Homo sapiens: one gene and its partner. The protein of the gene in region 1 purifies or fractionates together with the protein of each later gene. This does not show direct contact. Each region holds a gene or a part of one and is shown on either strand. Other genes may lie near its edges. The genes, in order: SAMD9L and EEA1.

Region 1 (3,824 bases):
ACTTTGGCTTTTACTCCATGCGAGATGAGAAGTCAGATAAAAGTTTTGAGCAGAGGACACTGACTAAGAGTCAGTGACATGATCACACTTACACTTTTGAACAGGACCAGGTTGGCTGTTGTGTTGAAAATAGAGTGAATGGCATGGTGGTGGGGCAAAGCCAGAGTCAAAGAGACCAGGTAACAAAAATAATCCAGGAAAGAGATGATGGCCTAGAACAGGGTGGTAGCAGTAGGGATAGTGGGAAAGGGTGGAATTATGGATATACTGTGAAGGTGTGATTGAAAGTATTTGCTAATACAATGAGTGAAAAAAAAAGCAGTAAAAAATGCTGCCAAGGTTTTTGCCTTGAACAATTGACAAGTTCCATTAACTGATAAGACTGTAGGAGGAGCAAGTTTGGAGTGGGAGGGGCATATATCAGGAGATCAATTTTGGCCATGTTCGTTTTAGGACTGTCATATACCTAGGTGAACATAGAGAAGGCAGATATATGGACATCATGGCAGAAGCCAGGGCCGATCATGTTAATTTGGAAGTCACAGGCATACAGATTGCGTTTAAATGCAAGATAGATGAGATTCATAGGGAGAAACTCTAGATAAAACTCTAGATAGAAAAGAGGCTAGGTCTGAGAGGCACGTCAACATTTAGAGGTGGAGAGTTAAGGAAGAACCAGCAGAGGAAACTGAGAAGGACTAGCCAGAAAAGGAGGAGGAAAAATCAGGAAAGGTAGTGTCCCAAAAGCCTGCAAGGAGAGTGATCCAAGGAAAAGAGAGCAATCACTTGTTTCAAGTGCTGCTGTTCTGTCAAGAACTGTCTGTAGCAATACCAAGTGCAATTTTAGTGGAGGAGTGAGGCCAAAGCCTGATTGGAGTGCCTTCTAAAGTGAGTGGAAGAAGAGAAACAGGAAACAGAAAGTGTAGACAGATCTACTGTGAAGAAAAGCACAAATGTGGGGAAGAGTTGTTTCCAAAGAGTCTTGCTTAACATGAAAAAAATAAACATGCTTGATTGCTGAAGGAGATCTAGTAGATGAGGAAAGACTGAAGAAGCCAAATAGAGTGGGGACACTTTCTGGAGCAACTTCCTGAATAGGTGAGAGGGATGCAAGGGCTACTGCAAGTGGAGAGGTTGACCTCACTAGGCATGTGGGCAGAACATGCAGAGAACAGAAACTAACATATGATGTAGTAACAGAAGAAAAGTGAAGACGCAGGTTGATGGGTAGATGTGGTTTCAGGAGTTTGGAGAAGCTCTCTTTGGATTCCTTCAATTCTGCCGGTTTAAATGGGAAACAAGGTGACCGTGGTGAGGAGGTGTTGTAAGTTTGATGAGAGAGGAGAGACAGTGAAATGATTGTTTAGGAGAATAAGAGAGTGACTACTGCAAGTGAAGAGGTTGACTAACGCAGAGAAATAAAGCATGGTAGCTGACAGCATTAAGGTGAGACCAGTCATGGTATGGAGGGCCATTGTCCAGCCATGTTCCAGTCAGGGTGTGGAGGGCCATTGTCCAGCAATTCTCCAGTCAGGGTATGGAGGGCCACTGTCCAGCATGCTCCAGTTAGGGTGTGGAGGGTCATTGTCCAGCCATGTTCCAGTCAGGGTGTGGAGGGCCATTGTCCAGCATGCTCCAGTCAGAGTATGAAGGGCCATTGTTCAGCATGCTCCAGTCAGTGTGGAGGCCCATTGTCCAACCATGTTCCAGTCAGGGTATGGAGGGCCATTGTCCAGCATGCTCCAGTCAGGGTGCAGAGGGCCATTGTCCAGCCATGTTCCAGTCAGGGTATGGAGGGCCATTCTCCAGCCATGCTCTGACAAGCTGTTGGGGACTGAGTGGGGACTGAGTGGGGACTGAGTGGTGGATGTAACTAGCATTGTAGTTTAACTATAAGAGTGTACCAGAGAGGAGAAAAATAAGTCATGATAATGAATAATCAAAGAAATATTAAGTCAGTAAAAGAGGAAAAGTGAAACATGAATGGAGTGAGGAAAAGTGAGACAGTAGTAGAATCAATAGATCAAAGGTGTTGGTGGTAAAGAAATACTTACTAGTGTTTGAGCACTAAAGGCAGTGGGTCTGAGGGGCAGGAGATGGTGGGGACAGGGAAGTGTTTGAAACAGAGAGGACGGAGGGCTTGTAGTTCTCAGTAACCGTATTTATTGGCTAGAGCTGCCATAACAAAGTAGCACAGAGTCACTTCAACAACAGAAATGTATTATCTCAGAACCCTTGCAACTAGAAGTCCAAGATCAAGCTATTGGCAGGGAGGGTTCCTTCTGAGGGCTGCAAGGGAGAATTTCTTCCATGCCTCTCACAGTAGCATGCTGGCAATCTTTGGTGATTCTTGGCTTGTAGAAACATCACACTAACCTCTGCCTTCGTCTTCACATACTGTTCTCCCGGTGTGTAAGCAAGCCTCTGTGCCCAAGTTTCCCCTTTTCACAAAAACCTCAGTCATATTGGATTAGGGTCCACTATAACTTCATGTCAACTAATTACATCTACAACAATCCTGTCTCCAAATAAAGTCACATTCTAAGGTGCTGGAGGTTAGGACTTCAGTGCCTGAACTTTGGCGCGATATAATTCAATCCATAATAGTAATGATAAGGTCAAGGATATGACCGTGGGAATAGAGGTGGGTTGATGTCAAGATAAAAGTCGATCGGGTGAGAGGCCATTGTATTGGAAGGATCAATGACATGTCTATTGAGCCACCAATAATTATGACAGAAATGGTATCTGAGGACACAAGTGTCCTCTTCCCTTCAGCTTCCTACATTTTAATACAAAATGTATTTAATACAAAATATATTAAAATGTCTAAAAACTGTATAAAATATATAAAAAGTAAGTATTCAGCAAATTTTCAAAGTATGAAATATCTTAAGACTAAGATTTAAAATACTATGGTAGTTATCTCATATGTAATGACTTCAAAAAAGTTTTCATTAAGGATATGTTTATTAATAACTGCTTATACTATTGGTTTTATATAATGCTTGTAAAAAGGTGAGGCAGGGCCCCTCTGTCGGTCTTACCTGAGATGACACTTAGGGCCTCGGCAGAGAGATGGGAATATCAGGGATGAGCCTACCGGGCTCCCAAGCTCCATCTGCCCTGGAGTACTCTATGGCAGGCCCAGTGCCCTGGCTCTGGGTGCAAGAGTAGGAGCTGCCCACTGCTGGAACAGCGCTATGTCATACCCCTTAGACCCACTAAAGGGGCCTTTGGCAGGTCCACCAAGTAGACTATTTCTTATTCCCTAACTCTGTCCCCCAGGCTTTCTCCCTCAATTGCCTCCCACATGACTCCAGCAGTTCCCTTAACTTCACCTGCCCAATGTTCCCACTCTCTTCTTCCTCATATATCCTAGGCCTAGACTCCTTCTTGTGTCTGACAAAAAGCACTACCACACTTTGTCAGTACAAACTTTTCTGAGTGTGTGTGTGTGTGTGTGACTTATTTCCTTTTTTTATCTTCTCCAATGGACAATAAATGTCATGAACGAGCTTCACATCTGTTTTGATTATCACTGTTTTTCCTGAGCATGATGCCTGGTACATAATTGGTGCTCATTAAATATGTGTAGAATGAATGAACAGATGACACTACTTAAGATAAATAACACTTATCGCTAGTTACAATATATGGGCTAATTTTTGTGGGACTCCTTAAGACCCACAAGTGACTTCTGTCTACACTACAGATGAACTGAATTGATCATCTAAAATACGTTTATAGCGTTCATTGTGCCAGTTGCTCATGGTTCTGCTAATTGGCCCAGGACTAGTTGTGATCTGCAGACTGAAGCCAGA
Region 2 (3,824 bases), on another chromosome or scaffold:
AAGTTTTTAAAAAACTAAAAAATGTGTATTTGTACATACATGCACACACACTCATATTCTGTATGACTTTACATAAAAATAATACATAGAGAAAAACAGAAGAAAATCACTGCAGTATCAAAAGTGGTTCTCTTTGAATAGGATTTTTTTGATGTCTTAGATTCTATATAGTTTAGTGTATTTTCTAAGTAAATGCCTTAATTATGATTTTTATGCTGAAATTATATTGATTTTATTCTGAAATTATAGGAAGAATCAAAGATTAACGAAGTTTTACCAAATAATTTTACCATAGTCATCATTTGTAAGAATAAAAGTAGTTACCCTTCAGCAATAGTTCTAATATTTTTGTAAAGTAATTAATAATCCCTTTGCATGTTATCTTGGCATATTGTGACTTTCAGTGAGGCTTGTTTGCTTTTTAAAGCCTTTGCACCAAGAATTGGCAGTTGGACTGAAAAAGACAAAAACAAATAAATAAATGACAAGATAATCAGTCTTATTACTACTCAGCTTTTCTAATTGGTGATTCTGTTAACATTAAAGGAGTTTTTAGTAATCCAAATTACTTATAACTCATTTACTCATGTTTTATATAGATGCCATTAATAATTAATTGAGTATGGGCTGTATTCTTTTCTGTATCTGAAAGCAGAGTGGAAATTGTTTACTGCATTTGAGATGACTATTTCACATTTAATACACTTAAATAACTTTTCCACAGTGCAAGATGTAAGTTACCTTGGCAGGAAATTTACCTTTTGGGGAAAATATATTTTAAATACTTAAGGTTCTTAGCAATCAGTATGTCTTAGTTCAATGTATAGAGAAACAAAAAGTCAGATATACTAGGAAATGCCTTATTAAACTCTTTCAGATGGGTATAATTCTTTAAAATATAAAAATAATGCCAAGGTAGTATATTATTTTGTTCCTAATACATGTGACAAATTAAGCCTTATGGAATCTGTTATTTCTGCTTCTTTTAAAGTTGACTTGTCCTGAATTAAAAATTTATGCTTATAAAGCCAATTTTTTTAGTAGTGATAGTTTGATAGCATTTTTTTTTTTTTTTTTTTTGAGACAGAGTCTCGCTCTGTCACCCAGGCTGGAGTGCAGTGGCGCGCGATCTCGGCTCACTGCAAGCTCCGCCTCCCATGTTCACAGCATTCTCCTGCCTCAGCCTTCCTAGTAGCTGGGACTACAGGCACGTCCGCCATCAGGCCGGCTAATTTTTTGTATTTTTAGTAGAGACGGGGTTTCACCATATTAGCCAGGATGGTCTCGATCTCCTGACCTCGTGATCCGTCCGTCTCGGCCTCCCAAAGTGCTGGGATTACAGGCGTGAGCCACCGCGCCCGGCCGTGATAGGATGTTTTAACTAATGCAAGTTTTAGTAGTGATAGCTTGATAGCATGTTTTAACTAATGCAAATGTTCAACTATTATAGGTGTTCTGTTTGATTGTAATAAGAAGCATGATTTGAAGTATGATTTCATGAATTGCATGGTTTATTGCCAAAGAGAGATTTTCTTCGGTTCACAGTGCTTAAAAGGGAGAGAAATAACATGAACAAATCTTACAGGGAATATCAATAGATGAGGTATATTAACCATATAGTGGGTGAGTTCCAAAATTATTAAAGTCTAGTCACTTTCTCAGGATGGAAGCAGGCTTTTGTGAAAAGTAAAGTCTAAAAGGGTTGAGGTGTACCTTTTTTTATGAGCAGTCTCTCTGGAGAGATGGCATCCAAAACAGTGGAGATCCCAGACAATGGGGATCTCCTGCTGCTAGAGGAGATGTAGGTGTTGGCTGCCGAGACTCAAAGATCTAAGGCCAATAGGATATGGCCCTATTGCAGCATGAGCTGCCAGTCTCAAAGAAAGCAGCTGAAAAAGTGCAGCCTGCCATGGCCTAAGCTTTCAAAGTATCTTTCAAACTCTTTGGTTAATATGTATTTTGAAGTCCAGTAGTTGAGGTCAGTAGCTCAGATCTGCGGTATGATAAGGTCTGATGTAATACTACTGAAGAGAGGAGAAGTTCATTCCAAGTTCTCACATATGGGGTCTAACAGGTATTACATGCTTGAGCGGAGGGGGATAACACTCCAAGTTCTTATGACAGCAAAATATGTAGCATCCATGTAGCAAACTATGTTAGTGTTAGAAGTTATTTCAAAGCTACATACTAATACGATTGAATGTTGCCAGTTGACTTAAGTATTTGTTTTAGAATCTATATTTATAATTACAATAATTGTGCTATTTATTTATTACTGAATTCATGGAATTTAAGATGACCATAATAACTTCATATATATTAACATACAAAAAAATCTATGTTAGAACTAATAAACTGAAGTTAGATCATTAGGCTAGTCTGCCTGCTGGTCTCTTACAGATCTGGAAGAATGGAAACCACCAAATTTAAATTTTCACCAAAATCTTACTACTTACCTGAAAGAAAGTGACTTTCAGAGATTTTTTAACATTGACCATTTTAACAGTATTATCTTTTCCTTTTAATTCATTTGTTTATGTCTTTTGTTTTAATTGAGGAGGCCAAACCTGATGGGTTGGTGACTGATTCATCAGCAGGTAACTTTACTTAAAGCAGATATTTTGTCAGTTTTCTTTTTCTTCTTATTTGTTTTCCTTTCTTTTTCTTTGATGCCTGCCAAATGAATTTTGTTTCATGGTTATGCTTTATGACTCTAAAACAGTGAAGATAATGGTCATATTCTAGGTGTAGAGAGTTACATGTGAACTTCATAATTTAATCAGTTAACTAAAAGTTTAGTTTTTTTAGTTCATTATATTTTGAAGTAAGAAACTTCTGGAATATTACATTAATATGGTTGTTTAATGAAATTTTAAGTCTATATTAAGAGTAAGATAGTTTATTTTCTTTATGATGAAGTATTAGGAGTTGACTGCATACTTTAATGAATTAAAAGGCCTTGAGATCTTAACCATTTCCAACATCCCGCTTTATAACTAATTTTATCAGAGGAGCAGAATGTTTTCCTTTTTGAGCCAGGCTTGGTGGCTCATGCCTATAATCCCAACACTTTGGGATACTGATAGGGGAGGATGGCTTGAACCCAGGAATTTAAGATCAGCCTCCGTAACATAGCGAGACCCCATCTCTTAAAAAAAAGATAAGGGGTGTATTCCTTTTTGGTCATTTGATGGATATGGGAAAATAACTGTGAAATGTGAAATCAAAATAACTTGTAATAAAATATTTATAGATTATTTAGCAGTGATTCTAAATATTCATTTCATTTGTAGTGTATGTTTGTAAATTATGATTTGTACCTTAAGTGAAGCAGATATACTTAATTTCTTGAAGTGTCAAAATACTACTTGTAATTGGATAATAAACTTAAGTTGATCATCTTTACAACTGTAATAAATATAAGTAATAACAATTTAGCATATGTAATTAACATGGTATTTGAATAACTGCGACACTTTTTTGTAGAACTACAGTCTTTGGAACAGCAATTAGAAGAAGCCCAAACAGAAAATTTTAATATTAAGCAAATGAAAGACTTATTTGAACAGAAAGCAGCCCAACTTGCTACTGAAATTGCAGGTAAATTGAGTTAGAATTTTTTAGCCAATAAATCAATCTCATTACCTTTTTGCCATTATATACCCTAGCAATAAATATAGTATTTTAGTGTGTTAAAGCATTTGTGATAGACTTCCAATGGTGATTAATGGAATTTAATGATTTCAGAGTTGCTATGTAAATTATTTTGTTTGTCCTCTAGCTGCCTGCCTTCAAAGGACTGGTGTTTCTTTGTAGATTCTTCT

What was found.
Region 2: the proteins of SAMD9L (region 1) and EEA1 purify together in Homo sapiens (co-immunoprecipitation; one study listed by IntAct). This does not show direct contact.

The regions. Positions count from the first base shown.
Region 1 is NC_000007.14:93,138,074-93,141,897, reverse strand, and holds part of SAMD9L (sterile alpha motif domain-containing protein 9-like), read left to right. Parts: intron 1-3,824. UniProt on the Homo sapiens protein: May be involved in endosome fusion. Mediates down-regulation of growth factor signaling via internalization of growth factor receptors.
Region 2 is NC_000012.12:92,852,688-92,856,511, reverse strand, and holds part of EEA1 (early endosome antigen 1), read left to right. Parts: intron 1-2,557; coding exon 2,558-2,597; intron 2,598-3,486; coding exon 3,487-3,600; intron 3,601-3,824. UniProt on the Homo sapiens protein: Binds phospholipid vesicles containing phosphatidylinositol 3-phosphate and participates in endosomal trafficking.